Linked DNA regions of Homo sapiens: region 1 is linked to region 2. The links come from fine-mapping of genetic effects on gene expression. Tissue or cell type: transverse colon. Region 2 holds a variant in brackets; the other region holds the start of a gene. All regions are shown on one strand. Distances are between the middles of the regions.

Region 1 (8,333 bases), 690 kb before region 2:
AGACAGAGTCTCATTCTGTTGCCCAGGCTGGAGTGCAATGGTGCGATCTGGGCTCACCGCAACCTCTGCCTCTTGGGTTCAAGTGATTCTCCTGTCTCGGCCTCCCGAGTAGCTGGGATTACAGGTGCCCGCCACCAAGCCCGGCTAATTTTTTTTTTTTTTTTTTGTATTTTTAGTAGAAGCAGGGTTTCACCACATTGGCCAGGCTGGTCTCAAACTCCTGATCTCAGGTGGTCCACCTGCCTCGGCCTCCCAAAGGGCTGGGATAACAGGCATGAGCCACCACGCCTGGCCTGAAACCTCTAATTTTTTTTAAAAAAAAACAATGTTTCAGAGGCCCACATGATAATAGACTTTTAAGATCTACATGATGAGCAAATACACAATGACAAGAGACCAGCAAGAAGTCAGGGACACTTCTGTACTGGGGTAGGGCTCATTAAGGTTCAGTTTTATCCAAAAGTTGGGCAGGGTTTTCCTCTCCACACTGCTGCCCCTCTGTGTTCAAGGGCTTGTTGCAGGAGTGCTTGCGAGTGGTGGCCATGGAAAAGGAGGCAGTCCCCCCTGGGATGGTGGGATGAGTTCAGCAAAGTTTCGGGACAGCTACCAGATGCCAGTGATGGATGGGAACAAATGCAGGCACCGTCAGGTCTGCTAACCCCTATAGTGACAAGCCATAGTTTGTGACTCACTTCTACTCTCCACTCCGTGGCCTGGGTCCCGACCTCTGGTCTAGGTGGTACACTGTAACCTCTCCTCTCCCTAGGCTCCGTCATCATCCGGTGTCCCTGGGGACAGGGGGTGGGAGTTGGGTCTCTTTCTCTGTCTGTGTTCTCATTCTCACCTATCCTTAAGTCATAAACTCGAATCCTAACTTCCCCAGGGCCTTCCCGTTTAGTTCTTAAGGCCAGAACTATTTTACTCTCTGTGAATTTGTTACAAAAAACCCTTATTCTCTGACAGGCTCCTGGAGAGAGTCAGACTGATGAGGAATCGGCTCTAACCCTGGCTCCACCACTGTGTGATACTGGCCAAACCTTAGTGCCTCCATCATCTTTAGCAAACTAGCACAGGAACAGAAAACCAAATACCACATATTCTCACTTGTAAGTGGAAGCTAAATGATGAGAACACATGGTCACAAAGTGGGGAACAACACACACTGGGGCCTACCTACTACAGGGTAGAGGATGAGAGGATGAGAGGAGGGAGAGGATCAGGAAGAATAAAAAGTACTAGACTTAATATTTCGTCACTGGGTGACGAAATAATCTGTACAACAAACCCCCGTGACACGAGTTTACCTACATAACAAACCTGCACATGTACCCATGAACTTAAAAGTTAAAAAAAAAAAAAAAAAGTGGCCCAGGCGCCGTGGCTCACATCTGTAGTCGCGGCACTTTGGGAAGCCAAAGCGGGTGGATCACTTGAGCCCAGGAGTTCAAGACCAGCCTGGGCAACATGGTGAAACCCCATCCCTACTAAAAATACAAAAATTAGCCAGATGTGGTGGTGTGCACCTGGAATCCCAGCTACTCAGGAGGCTGAGGCACGAGAATCGCTTGAACCCTCTACCGGGAGGCAGAGGTTGCCGTGAGCTGAGATTGTGCCACTGCACTCTAGCCTGGGTGACAGAGTGAGACTCGGTCTCAAAAACAAAACAAAACCCCAAAGTATAATACACCTGACTTCAACTTTATGACATTGCTGTCTTTTATTACATCTTTTTATATTAAAAATAAATAAAAATGTCATAAATAGTAATTGTGTAAATATAAAAGGCCTTATTAAAAAAACAAATCTTAGTGCCTCAGTTTTCTCTTCTGTCAAGTGGGCACATAAAATTACCTAAGTCATAGGGTCCTGGGCATTTAAATGAGAGAATGTACGTGAAATATTTAGCACAGTGGAGGGCTAGGCACACGGGGAGACTGCAGTTTAAAAGACTAACCAGGCACATGAGACCAAAGACACAAAAGTCTGTTATTTTCCTAGAGTCAAAAACAAAACTTATTAGAAGGCTGTCTTTACCCAATCTTGTCCTCAAAATTGACTCTAAATCTTTAGTTCACTTTAAACATTCAGTAAATTATTAACACTGCTTTGAAATTCTCTTTCTATTCTCTCTATCCTGTGACCTCTGACATGATGTCACAATTCACCTTCTGCTCTGACTTTGTGAGGATTTCCCAAGCTGGTTGGTGCATGGGCTTCCTCACTTTTTTCCTCACGAAGAGGTCTCTGGTCTCCCCTCTCTGAGCACTCTGAGGTAGGGTTGCTGTGTGTTTTGCTCTTGGTCTAATTCCTTTGGCTAAACATGAATAATTATATTAATGAATGGCTTTGGAGATTCTTCTTCCGTCCTTTGCATTTTTCCGAGATATGTTTCTGGTTTTGGTATCTATTAGAAGGGTATTTTGGTTTCTGTTTTGTGACAATCAAGATTTATAGTACAGAAAATTAGAAGTGATTATTTCTATTTCAAGGTTCTTTCTGTGGCAGCCAGGTAATCCCTTGGGTGCCCTGATTTACTCACTTGGTTTTTTTCTCTCTCCTGGGTATAAGACCAACTACATAATTTACAAAGCCCAGGGCAAAATAAAAATGCAGCCTCTCATTCAGAAATTATTAAGAACTTCAAGAGGGTGAGAGCACAGCATCAAATCAAGAGCAGGGCACTTCTTTTTTATTTTAATTTTTCCATAAGTTATTGGGGTACAGGTGGTATTTGATTACATGAGTAAGTTCTTTAATGGTGATTTGTGAGATTTTGGTGCACTCATCACTCGAGTAGTATACACTGCACCCTATTTGTAGTCTTTTATCCTTCGTCCCCCTCTCATCCTTCCCCCTAAGTCCCCAAAGTCCATTGTATCATTCTTAAGAGCAGGCCACTTCTAAATCTGGGGCCCTTCTAAGTGCAGGGCCCTATGTGACTGCACGGGTTGCTGGCCCATGAATCTAATCCTGCCCGGGAGGCAATGGTGGTAAAAGCTTTAGAATCCTGTAGGCTTGGGTTAGAGTCTTAGCTCTGCAAGTTACTCTTTTGGAGGAAGAAATATATGAAAAAGCGGACACAGGAGCTTATTAGATTGTGAGGAGCACATTAGTTTGATGGGTCCCAGGAGAAGGAGCCAACATTTCTGTATTCCACTTAAGCGCTGAGAACGGTGCTTTGTACCTAAAAAAATTTTTTAATTAAGACATAATTCACATGCAATAAAATTAACTCTTCAAAAGTATACAATCCAGTGGTTTCTAGTACACTCACAAAGTTATACAACTATCACTGCTCTCTAATTCCACAATATTTTCATCACCCAAGAAACACCATATCTATTAGCGGTATCTATTAGCAGTCACTTCCCATTCCCTCCTGCCTTAGTTTCTGGCAACCACTAAACTACTTTTTGTCTCTATGGATTTGCCTATTCTGGACATTTCATATAAATTAAAAACAATATATGGCTTTTTGTGTTTGACTTTTTTTTTTTTTTTTTTGAGACGGAGTCTCGCTGTTACCTAGGCTGGAGTGCAGTGACTCACTGTAACCTCTGTCTCCTGGGTTCAAATGATTCTCCTGCCTCAGCCTCCCTAGTAGCTGGGACTACAGGTGCCCGCCACCATGCCCGGCTTATTTTTTGTATTTTTAGTAGAGACGGGGTTTCACCATGTTGGTCAGGCTGGTCTCGATCTCCTGACCTCGTGATCCACCCGCCTCGGCTTCCCAAAGTGCTAGGATTACAGGCGTGAGCCACCGCACCCGGCCTTCTAAGGGTTTTATAGTTTTAGTTCTTACATTTAGGTCGTTGATCCATATTTAGTTAATTTTTGCATATGGTGTGAGGAAGGAAGTGTATAATTTTAATTCCTGCTTAGCCTGACGATAATCATGTGACCCTTGGTAAGTTCTTGCACCTAAGTCTCAATTTCCTTATTTGTAAAGTGAGAATAACAAATGGTAGCTAAATCATAAGATTACAGTGAAGATAGAAAATTTACGTAGAGCATTTATCACACTGCTTGAAGCATCCTAACTACTCGATAAATGCGGTCGGTGTTACAGTTATAACATGAGCGATGAATGCGTGCTTCCACAGTGGAGTGCCAGAAAGACCGGCAGCATTTCTGAGAAGGTAAACGGGAGGAAGTAGGCTTGCTTAGTCCACTTGGAGAAGCAGGTCTGGGATTGTTGTGAGAGTCTCTGCCCTAGGTAGACCACTGCCTCATGATCCCCTCTAGAGATTGGTAAAAATTCGAATTCTCGGGCCCCATCAGAACTACTGAAAAGAGCCTCCTGTGAGCACAGGGCTCGCAGTAAGTGGGGGTGACGGTGGTCGCGCCGGCAGCGCCGCCTTGGGCCTGCGGGAGGCGCCCGAGAGGCAGGGGCGACCACGGCGGCTGCGCAGAGTCCTCCCTATGCCGGCGGTCGCGCCAGCGGGATCCGCCTGGCTCAGCTGACAGCTCCCGAGAACGGAAGAGGCGGCGCGCCGGTTGAGCAGGGCGTCTCTAGGCCTGGTCGGCTGGCGGCGGTGAGTGGGCCCCAGGCAAGGGCGGAGGGCGGAACTTTGGGGTTCGGCACTGCCGGGCGGCCGGAAGGTACGGTGGGGATAGCTCTCTGGGCGCGCGAGGCAGAGAAGGGGACCGGGCTGGGACTGTACACTGGGCCTCAGTCCCTCAAATCCGGGACCGGGCGTCCGCAGCTCGGCTGGCCGGGACTCCCTTCGGGACGCTGAGGAGGAAGGGGAAGGTGTGGGCCCTGCTCCTTCGGGACGCCCCAGGCTGGCCAGCAGCTCACACATCCGCATTGCGCCCTCTGATCCCAGCGTTGGGGCGGATAGCTAGCGTTGGGCCTGCCCCTGTTTTGGGGCAGTCGCCCAAACGACGCCGCACGCCTAGTGGCGAGCTGAACCCAGACTAGGACACCCGAAGACCAAATGGATAGAGTGAGAAGGAAATGGGGGTTAGCAACCTGAATTGAGGTACTGGATTCCAAGTGACAGCTTCACAAGCTGAAATCTTGTAGGGTAGGTCATGAGGAACTGTTGAAACTGCTTGGAGTAGAAGTTCTTAGCCCTGGCTGCATATTGGAATCACCTGGAGAACTTGGAAAACTACTGAGGCCTGAATTAATTGTTCTAGGGTGTGGCCTGGGTATTGAGATTTTAAAAAACAGCTCCTCAGAAGATTCTAATGTGCAGTCAGATGGAGAACACTAACCTAAAACCATAAACTGCATGAATGAATCTCTCATCCCATTTGCAAATGTTTTAACAGGAAGAAACAAAAAGCTTAATTCAATTAGCACCATATACTCCCACCTAGTAAAATAAGACAATGTGAAAGGACCTAATACAGTACATAGTAGGTGCTCAATTAATGTAAATTGATTCTGAATCTCATTCTTATCTCATTTGGGAGTTACACATCCGAGAATCTGGTTTTTAATTATGGTTTTGTATATAGTATTTTTGCATATAATTTTAGGGTGTTGATAGGATTCTCCGTAGCCCATCTATAGACCACACTCCCTTTTCCCCTCACCCCAGTGAAGAAGCCTAGCTCTAAAGCATTTAGAATAAAACTTAAAAGTTTGTGTTTGTGTACTCTTGTTTTGTTTAAGTATTTTTCTGTTACCAAAATTAACCTTGAGTGCCACTGGCAGGCTTAATTCATGAACAAGAGAGGAAAAACTGGAGGGGAGTGGCAAATGAAGGAATACAAGAAGCAGAAGAGGAAAGGAGAAAAAAACAAAACAAAAAACAAACTGAAGAGATTGTTTGTTATGGGGCATGGTGTCCTGTACTTTCATATGACCTTGGTGTTCCTCCTTAGCTCCTCCCATAGCTGAGGGCAGACAGATAAAAAGTCCTCAGTCATTGCTGGGGACATGCAAATACTCCTTTAACCACATGGCTCAGTTAGCCTGCCCTAGGAGAGTAACATGCACTTGTAGATTAGGATTGGCTATATGTTAGGATATGTTTGACTTAAGCAGTGATCATGGAAATTCAGAATTTTAATTTGGAGAGGGTCCTAACACCATCTTTTGTATTTCTTTTCTGCAGATGGCAGGATTTTCATAATATATGTAGTATGAGTTCCACATCTTGGCCTCTTACCCAGCTTCAGCAGTCTCAGCTCCACCAGTTAGAGAATAAATGGGATTTGCATGAACTCCACTCTGAGCTGAAATACAGACTGCGGTGTTAATATCCTTTTCTTCTGATTGTTATTAACAGGTACTAACTGACCTCAAGTAGAACATGTAATTGTGTCTTAGATAGGGATGCAGCTTAAGCAGAGCCATGAACTAACATCTCCTAGAAAAAAAGTGTTTTTTGAAAATGAAATCATTTTTAATTTCATAGTATGACCTTTTAAAATGTAAAAAATCCTAACTTTTTACTTATGTACATTTTAATTAAAAATATTTTAGTTGTGAGGGAGGATATTTGCAAATGCAATTGTAGTTCAATATTTTAATTGACTGGTAGTTTTGTTTTATTAAAATGATTTTTGTAAATTCTCATTGCATATTTTTTTCACATTTAAATTATCTGAAATTGCTGTATCTTTCAGTTGATGCTATTTTAAAAAACATTGATTCATACTTTATTTTTTGAGACAAGGTCTTGCTCTGTCCCCCAGGCTGGAGTGCAGTGGTGCAAACACGGCTCACTGCAGCCTCAGCATCCAAGGCTCAAGCGATCCTCCTGCCACAGTCTCCTGAGTAGCTGGGACTACAGGCACACACCACCACACCTGGCTAATTTTTTATAGAGACAGGATCTTGCTATGTTGCCAAGGCTGATCTCAAACTGCTGGCCTCAAGTGATCCTCCTGCCTTGGCCTCCCAAAGTGCTGGGATTACGGGCATGAGCCACCATATCCAGCCAGTTCATACTTTAATTGTAGCTAATTTCTTTTTCTTTCTTTCTTTCTTTCTTTCTTTCTTTCTTTCTTTCTTTCTTTCCTTTCTTTCTTCTTTCTTTCTTTCCTTTTTTTTTTTTTTTTTTTTTTGGAGACAGAGTCTGTCTCTGTCACCCAGGCTGGAATGCAGTGGTGCAATCTCAGCTCACTGCAACCTCTGCCTCCTGGATTCTAGTGATTCTCTAGTCTCGTGCCTCAGCCACCGAGTAGCTGGGATTACATGCGTGTACCACAATGCCCGGCTAATTTTTTTATTTTTAGTAGAGATGGGGTTTTGCTGTGTTGGCCAGGCTAGTCTTGAACTCTTGGCCTCAAGTGATCTGCCTGCCTTGGTCTCCCAAAGTGCTGGGATTAAAGACTTGAGCCACTGTGCCTGGGCCTTGTAGCTAAATTCTTAGTATTACCTAAAATAATGGTAAATCTTTCTTAAAATTATTATCTTTTAAATATTCTTGAGTCATAATGGTGAATCTTTAAATTGGTGACTGCTTGGATTTGACAAAATCTATTATTTCAAAAATTTAATATTATTTTGCTGCTTGCTCAGTTATCTAATTTTCTTCCATAATATCTATGCCTGTAACATTCTCAAGCACTGTTTTCTCACCTGGGAGCAATTTTGCCTCCAACCCCCATCCTGCCCCAGGACCTGGCGCTATTTGGAGATATTTTTTTTTTTGAGACAGGGTCCCACTTTGTCACTCAGGCTGGAGTGCAGTGGTGCTATCATGGCTCACTGCAGCCTCGACCTCCCAGGCTCAAGTGATCCTCCCATGTCAGCTCCCCAAGTAGCTGGGACCACAGGCAAGCACCACCACACCTGGCTAGATATTTTCAGTTGTCACAGCTCTTGTGGGTGGAAGCGGGCCACTATTGGGTATCTAGTGGGTAAAAGCCAGGGGATGCTGTTAAGATTCTATAATGCACAACACAGCTCTCCAACAACAATTATTTACTTCAAAATGTCAATAGAGCTGAAGCTAAGAAAACTTGCCCTAAAGATTCCTGTGGATTTAAAAAATTTACTTTTTTGTTTTTTTGAGACAGAGTCTGACTCTGTCGCCCAGGCTGGAGTGCAATGGTGCAATCTCAGCTCACTGCAACCTCTGCCTCCCACGTTCAAGCAGTTCTCCTGCCTCAACCTCCCGAGTAGCTGGGATTACAGGGGTGAGCCACCACACCCAGCTAATTTTTGTATTTTTAGTAGAGATGGGGTTTCACCACGTTGGCCAGGCTGGTCTCGAACTCCTGACTGCAGGTGATTTGCCCGCCTCGGCCTACCAAAGTGTTGGGATTACAGGCACGAGCCACCGCGCCTGGCAAATTAACTTAAGAAAGGAGTGTAATATACTTTGACCACTTTTGCGAACCAGGCACATTGCTAGGTTCAGTGGACA
Region 2 (8,333 bases):
ATTCTACCCAGGACTCCCAAATCCTGCCCTGTGCCTCCACCCTGGTCTTTGCATTCAAAGCTCCCATCACCTCCAAGAAATCTTCCAGGACATTCTGCAGATAACAGCCCACGGTGGACGTCTTGCATTCTCCTTCTTCCATTGCCTTTGCTTAATTAATGACAGTGCAGTGGTTACAAAATAGCCCAAGCCACTTAATATGCCCTAGTCATATTCCCTTTCCCTCACTCCCACAGGCATCTCCAAATGATTCTACCTAAATATTTCTTAAATATTCCTTCCATCAGTGTCTCAGGTCAGGCCAGCAAATTCTCAAGCCTTATCCATGGCAATTGCTTCTAGTTTTTCTCTCTGTAGCTTATTCCCCTTACCTCATTCACAACATGGCCATCCTTGGCTTCCCATTCACAGATCTGTTCATGCCTTGCCCCTGATCACATTTCCTGTTATTTCTCACTGCCTAAAGGCCAAAGGCCAAACTTCTTAGCATGGCATTCAAGGCTCTTGACTATCTGGTTGCAACTTTTTTTCATTCAATCAACAAACTAAGCACCCAGGATGTGTCATGCCTTGGAGATACCTTTGTGAATAAGAGAGTGTGGCTCATGCCCTTATGGGACCACATTGTAGTGGGGCTTCACAGGCAGCAGACACACACACGCACACACTCACGAGTTAAAGGACAAAGAAAGAAAAATTGTCAGTTGTGTTTTGGAGGATATTTCCTTCGGTATCAAGGAACTGAGGTAGAAAAATAGAGTAAGACCGACTAGCAAGACTCCTTGAAGAGGTGACATTTAAGTTGAGATTTGAAGGAAGAGAAAGTATAGGCTGCGGAGAGTTGCCGTCCTGGTACCTGTGTGCATGGTGCTCTGGGGATGCTTCTGCCGTGATCATGAACTCTTCCAGGGGAGGAACTGCCAGGTCACTTGAGTCCCCAGTGCCTGGCATGTGGTAGGCTCAGTAATTGTGAGAAGAAAACCTGGATGGATAGGCAAGCGGAAGCATGCACTCTGAGATGAGCTGGGTATAATGTCTTTGGAGAACAATTACATAACCAACAATGCTGAAGCCTTGCATTTGCTGGTGTTGGCGTGTGTTGGGGGAAGAATGTCTGAAATGAGCTCTCATTCAGGTTCTTTATCACTTTGGTTCCATGGTCGCCATCCTTGTTATAGTGAAACAGGCATGTATTTTTTTTTTTACAAATAAAAGATAATAATTTTTTTTGTATTTTTCTTTGATAAAATGCTTCACCAGATCTTGCGTCAGTTTTTTTTTTTTTTTTGAGACAGGGTCTCGCTCTGTCGCCAGGCTGGAGTGCAGTGGCGTGATCTCAGCTCACTACAACCTCTGCCTCCCGGGTTCAAGCGATTCTCCTGCCTCAGCCTCCCGAGTAGCTGGGATTACAGGCACCCACCACCACACCCAGCTAATTTTTGTATTTTTAGTAGAGACAGGGTTTCACCATGTTGGCCAGGATGGTCTCAATCTCTTGACCTCGTATTCCACCCACTTCAGCCTCCCAAAGTATTACAGGTGTGAGCCACTGCGCCCAGCCCTTGCATCAGTTTTAAGGGGGAACTTTGAAGCAGAATGATGAAAGGCAGTGTCAGCGGTGGTTAAGTGCCCAGCACAGGCAGTTACATCACTGAATTCAAATGCTGCCTGACAGCAGATCCCAGGAAACCACTCAGGCTTCATAGCTTTATCTATAAAATGTGAATAACAAAATCTTTCAGAGAGTTGCTGGCGGGAGGATTCAGTGACACATGTGAAGAGTTAGCCCAGAGCCTGGAACACAGCTGAGGGGTGCCATTGTTGTGGGAGTGATGTTTCTCAGCCTGGCCCATCCAAATGTCTCCAAATGCTTCTGAGAGAGTCACGGCCAAAGATGACAGGGAACATGCCCTTTGGTCTGTTTCTCTAGTCGAAGGGGAGAAATTCTCTTGCTCAGATCAGAAGCTCTTTGACTCCAGAGCAGGCCTCTGAAAGTGGCCACTGCCACAGCAACACTAATGGGACTGCATCTCTGGTCTTGCAGGCCCTGCGTCAGGCGATTTCACTGCTGAGCTGACCGGTCCATAAACAGGCCATGGGCAGTGTCACACGTTTTCTCACACAACATGACTGTGGTTTCTCTTAATTTGTCTCTTCTCTGGGCTTCTTCCCGAGGCCTCAACTGTGCGGCAGCTGAAAACCATCTTCACGCTCATCCGGGGTGAGAATTAAACAGTCCTGTTAGTAAAGCTCTGTCCTTCAGCTCCTCTGTCTTTAGCCGCCCTCCCTGCGGCATGGTTTTAGGAGGAGTGGGAGCCACTCAGCCTCTGACTGGAAGGGAAGAGTTGGCCCCCGGCACAGGGTCTCCAGCATGGAGCCTTCAGCCTGCCCTGTGGCTGCCCACCCTTTGGCCTTCATGACTCAAGTTGGGGCCGCTGGTCTCTCTTGGCTGGGTCAGGGCCCAGGGCGGCTCCTTGGCTGGCCAGCTCTTGTTGGCTGTGGGTTTCTCCTTCCCTGCCCAGGAGGTCTGCCCCCGCTCTGCTGCAGGGTCACCCCACAATGGCCTCTGGCTCTCGTCTCAGCATCTATATCACGCAGGAGCAGCAGAAATCTGGAGTGTAACGCACACCCACTCGCCTTCTGATCACACCCATTCAGCCTCTCAAACTCTGCAGGCCTCCCCATGCTGCAGGGCTGCCCTGCCTTCCGTGTTCTCCTCAGCTCATCAGCAAGTTTTTAATGCCAAAGACACACACTCCATATCTTCTTTTCTAACCCCATACCCCATAGCCCAGTGACAGACAGGCATCCCCTACCATGGTAAAAGAAATCCCACAGTCTATCTGCCAGGCCTAGCCCCTGCTATGTTACAATGGAGTGAAAGCCATTTTGCAAATCTTTCCACAAATCTTGGTGGTTGAGCCAGCTGTCTTCTTTATTCTGTGTTCCTCCTTCCTTCTCTGGCTCCAGGCAACAGGACTCCTGGCCCAGGCTCTGAGAAGAGAGGCTCCAAATGGAACATGGTTTAAAGGCAGGATATGTGGTAAGAGGGGGAAAATGCATTGCTTCATATCTGCAAAATATTATCCATCATACACCATTCCTCTTGCAGGCTTGCCATAGCTAATAGAAGCCTTGTCCTTCAAGGTACTTTTCTTTGCTCCACTCTTACATTCATTCAACAAATATTATTGAGCACCTGTGACATGCAGGCATTGTGCTGGACACCAGATCAATAGCTGCCTCACAAACATGATGCAGATGTTCTCATCTCCACCTGAAAAGATGCTCAACCCCATTTGCCACCAGGGAAATGCAAATCAAAAGCGCAATATCACTTCACACCCACTAGGCTGGCTTTCATCAAAAAGGCACCCAATAACAAGTGTTGGTGAGGATATGGGGAAATTGGAACCCTCATACACTGCTGGTGGGAATGTAAAATGGTGCAGCCACTTTGGAAAACAGTCCCTCAAGTAATTAAGCATAGCGTTACCATATGACCCAACAATCCAGCACCTAAGTATGCAACTAAGAGAAATGAAAACATATTCATGCAAAAAAGAGTACATTAATTTTCATAGCAGAGTTACTCATAAAGCCAAAAATGGAAAGCAACAAATGATGAGTGGATAAGCAAAAGGTAGCATATCCATGCAAAACATTCAACCATAAAAAGGAATGCAGTACTGATACATGCTACAATGTGGATGAACCTTGAACACATTATATTAAGTTTAAAAAGCCAGTCACAAAAGACCACATATTGGCCGGGCGCGGTGGCTCACTATCCCAGCACTTTGGGAGGCCAAGGC[G/A]GGCAGATCACGAGGTCAGGAGATTGAGACCATCCTGGCTAACACGATGAAACCCCGTCTCTACTAAAAATACAAAAAATTAGCAGGGCATGGTGGCGGTTGCCTGTAGTCTCAGCTACTTGGGAGGCTGAGGCAGGAGAATGGCGTGAACCTAGGGGGTGGAGGTTGCAGTGAGCCGAGATTACACTGCACTCCAGCCTGGGCGACAGAGCAAGACTGCGTCTCAAAAAAAACAAAAAACAAAAAACACACAGACAAAAAAAAACCCACATATTGTACGATTCCATTTACATGAAATGTCTGGAATAAGCAAATATCTAGAGACAGAACGTAGATTAGTGGTGTGCCCGGGGCTGAGGGAGGGGGAAGCGGGGAATGACTGCTGATTCATATGTGTCCTGAGATTAGATAGTGGCAGTAGTTGCATGACACTGTGAATATACGAAAAGCCATTGAACTATACACTTTGAACGGACGAACTGTATAATTGTGAATTATATCTCAAGCCGTTAAAAATGTTCTCACCTCGTTCACTAATAGTGTCTCTTTTTTCCCAATTTCTTAGCTCTCTTGGAGCAAATGTGAATTCAACTTTCTGTAATTTTGAGACTTTCTCCAACATGCTTATTAGAGTTCAATATTAGGTGGACACCAATTCAATGATTTTTGAATGGTCATTTTCCATTAGAAGATAAACTTCAAGAGGGGAAGGATTTTTGTTGATGTTGTCACTATTATACCCACCATGCTTAACACAAGGCTTGACACACAGTCGGGTCTCAATAAATATTTGTTGAATGAATGGATACCTACATGAGCTTACTTTGTAAATGGACACAAAAGCCCAGTGATGACTGCTGGTCATTCATTCATTCATTCAGCACATATTTTCTGCAGCCTCCTCTGTGTATGGAGTGCGTGAATGAAACAGACATCTCTTTGCCCTGGGGGAACTTAGAACAAAGGAAACCTGTAGGTAGCACTTTTCATACTTTGATTAAATACTGAAAATAAATAAATCTAACATCCAGTAAAGGTTTAGAGTATTAAAATTGTAATTTTTTTTTTGAGACAGCATCTCACTCCCTCACCAGGCTGGAGTGCAGTGGCACAATCTCAGCTCATTATAGCCTCGACCTCCTGCACTCAAGCAACCCTCCCACCTCAGCCTCCCAAGCAGCTGGAAGCACAGGCACGTGCCACTAGGCCCAGATACATTTTTTTGTAGTTGTAGAGATGGGGTCTTGCCGTGTTGCCCAGGCTGGTCTGGAACTCCTGGGCTTAAACAATCCACCTGCCTCAGTCTCCCAAAGTGCTGGGATTACAGGCGTGCACAACTGTGCCTGGCATACAAAATGTTTTAAAGTTCTTCTCAGCAGGGCTTTGAAAGAAAGTTAGGCTGAGTTGAGACAGCCATACAAAGAAAAAGATTCCGAAGGACAGAGGATAGGTGAGAAGCAGGTTAATCAGGAAAGAAAAAAAAAAAAAAGAAAAAAGATAATGAGCTTTTCCAGCAGAACGATTTTACCAGTTAGGAAGGCTTTTCAAGTTGTGATATTAATTTCTTGTTGAAGTAGGAAGTAAAATCAGAAAAGGAGAAAGTGCCAAGTCCTAGCCCTCATCTCCAGTGACAGGGAAGTCTTTGAGAAGATGGGAAAGTATGACTCAGTGGCTTGGAGGAGAGAGAACAAGGGTGTTTTAAAGAGATGGGGAAGATCTAATTTAAGTACAACTGCCTTCTTCACTATGGAAACTTATTGGAAAGATAGCCAAGAGGTCGAGACAGAAGGCAAGAAGATACTCCGTGATGACCCGAGTTGAGAAACCAAGAGAAGCCAGCTTATACGTACACAGCCCACAGCGGAGGAGGGAGGTCTTGGGGTCAAAAATCAAAGCAAGGAAACTTGTCCAGTTGACTTTTTTTTCCACACAGACAACCTCTTCGTTCCACCTCTCTCGCCCCAGATTTCCATCTTAACATGCAGGAATTCTAGAAAACCATTAGCGATTTGATGTGAACAGAGCTAGGAAGTGGTTAAGACATGAATAAGGCTTTCGAAGAGGCAGGGTGAGGCTGAAGAGTTAAGACACTTGGAGAGATGAGAGAAGGCAAGGAAGATGTGGGAAGAATAAAGTTCAGCGTCAGGGATGATGCTTCCAAATCTGGCGCAAATCACAAGTGGAGCTCGGGAAAAGAAAGAGATGGGCCCAAGAAAGAGCCTATACCATGGAGGCTTATGAACTAGGAAATCAATGGCCAGAGCTGCTGCTAGGGTCCTGCTGAAGGGGTCACCTGGCCTCACAACCAGCACCCCTAAAGTCCAGGGGGAGTGAGCAGTTCCAAGTGAGCCCAAGCACAGATGAGCCCCAGGGGGAGGAAGGAGGCAAAGTGTTCTTTTTTCCTGCAGTTAGATGCTCCATTGTGTTTTCTGTTTGCCAAGCTGGCTGCCCACCTGAAGGAACAAATAACAAAGGCGCCCCCCACCTCCCAGGCAGCGTGCACTGATGGGTCAGGCAAGGCAGGGATTTGGGCCCAGGAAGTTGCCAAGGACAGATCTAGGCTCTGCGGCTCCCTAGCGCCGTGTCACTGGCTATGGGCACGGACGCCACTGCTCTAAGCCCTGTATTCTCTGCAAATGTAGTGGTGATACAAAAGGGCTGTCTTTGGGACGAATTAGATCGTGGAGGCAACGCTCCTAGCATGGTATGGCGCTTGTAATATTTTATCAAGCCTCAGATGCACATATTTTCAGTATTTGAACGTCTCTAAAATCAGGCCGTGCAACATTCTTTTTCTTCATGGTACATGAAGTGACGGTCTAACTTCCAATTTACTGTATCTTAGATCTGATAAAATATGGAAGTAGCCATCCAGTAAGTGGCAGTGGGGTGTTTTGTGATTGCTCTGCTTGTGTTTCATTCATGACACCGTCGATGTCCAGGGATTTCCTCTTCTAAGCTGGTTGAGTCTTTTTCCTGGTGGATGGGAGCCTGGGCTCTGGAGTCAGCCCAGCTGAGGACAAGTCTTGACTCCGCTGCTAACAGCAGTAAGATGTGGGCGAGGTGACGTCACCTCTCTGAACCTCAGTTTCCTCTTTTCTATAATGGAGATTACAGTATTACCTAAACTCATAGGGTTATTTTGAGGATAAAATGAGGTAAAGTTACGTAAGGTGCTTAACACAGTGCTGCATTGTATAAATGTTAATGAGGATGATAAAAACAAATTATTAAACAGTAACATTGAAAAACAGTAACATTGCCTTATGTAACAGTATTACATTTTATAAAAAGTGTTATTTGTGCTGCAATCTCAGCTGCTCTGAAGGCTGAAGTGGAGGATTGCTTGAGCCCAGGAGTTTGAGATCAGCCTGGGCAACATAGCAAGACTTCATCTCAAAAAATAAAAAACAAAACTCACAAACTTTACTTTAGAAAAATATTCCTGAGATACCTTGGGAACCTCAAGACAACACAAGTGCTCTATCTCACCTCACACCCCTCACCCCTGCCCCTCGTCCACCCCCTTGCCCTTCCATCCTCCGTTCTGGGTGGGGCTTTCCATCTCCCCCTGTCCCACTCCCCTCCTCAGGACTTTGGCCCCTTCTGGAAACATTACTTTAGAGCTGTTTACCTTGGAAAAAGTACTGGCTCACTCCTCCTTGGAAAAGGTCGCCACAGGTTCTGGCTGGGATTTTCTCAAGCAATGAATGACCCAGGACCTCCCCCCAACAAGGCTTCTCTGTCTCTTCATCTTCCTGTCTCCTCTCCCACCCTGGCTCACTGCATCCAGCTAGCTGCCTCTGTCCTCCCGGAATTCCCTCAACACTCAGTGACCTCAATATGTTCTCCTCAAAGCCTCTCATCTCTACCCATTGAGTCCTGTCTACCAATAAAGCTTCATGCTTTTAACGTTAATAGCTCACACACTTAGAGCCTCCCCATATCTTCAGAAACCCATGGTCCTTCCCACTGAAGGTTCTACAGTGATCCTAAGAGGATCACAGGTACGTAGCTCTCCTCTTCAAGCACAACCAATAAGCTTTTCCTTTGGGGAGGCTGGAGAGGCCCACAGGTAGTCAAGCGTTGCCTGTTCTTTTCTCGATCCCCAGTCTTTCTCATCATCTCATGAGCACTCAAGATGGAGCTAATGACTTCCCCCTAGGTTGGCTCTCTGGCAAACCCTTCTTTTTTCAAGGTGAGACCCCCTGCTCCTACAGCCTGCCTTTGATAACTGGCCTGCTCCACCACCCAGGGTCAGGAAAACCCAGACTTTTGCCTGCCACTTTGACTGCCAGTGGAATTGCATCATAACACAAGCTACTCTAGTATGGCACTTGCTGAAAAGTTCTCAGACTTGATTGAACTTTACCCAGTGCTCACCCTTAAGGTCTTGTTATATTAGGGTGAAATCTGTATCAGCATCATGGCCCTCGCGAAAAAGGACTTTTCCCTGGTTTCATAACCCCACCAGAATGACTCTAATGGTCTAAGGAGCATGTAATACACACACACACA

Evidence for each region. PIP is the estimated chance that this variant, and not a neighbour inherited with it, causes the effect.
Region 1: it holds the start of RNF14, and the variant in region 2 is fine-mapped to the expression of RNF14 in transverse colon (GTEx, PIP 0.97).

What each region holds. Positions count from the first base shown.
Region 1 is chr5:141,964,633-141,972,965 of GRCh38, forward strand. RNF14 (ring finger protein 14) reads left to right here and starts at 4,473. Exons shown (of 9, transcript NM_004290.5): 1 at 4,473-4,535; 2 at 6,072-6,245. LOC124901095 (a long non-coding RNA gene) reads right to left here and starts at 5,148. Exons shown (of 3, transcript XR_007058977.1): 1 at 4,976-5,148. RefSeq lists a silencer at 4,256-4,395 and an enhancer at 4,506-4,655.
Region 2 is chr5:142,657,960-142,666,292 of GRCh38, forward strand. All of the region lies in intron 1 of FGF1 (fibroblast growth factor 1), which reads right to left. Among named protein-coding and RNA genes, the nearest start is that of FGF1, 24 kb to the right of the region's middle. RefSeq lists enhancers at 1,984-2,484, 2,485-2,985. The variant G/A (reference allele first, on the strand shown) is at 3,816.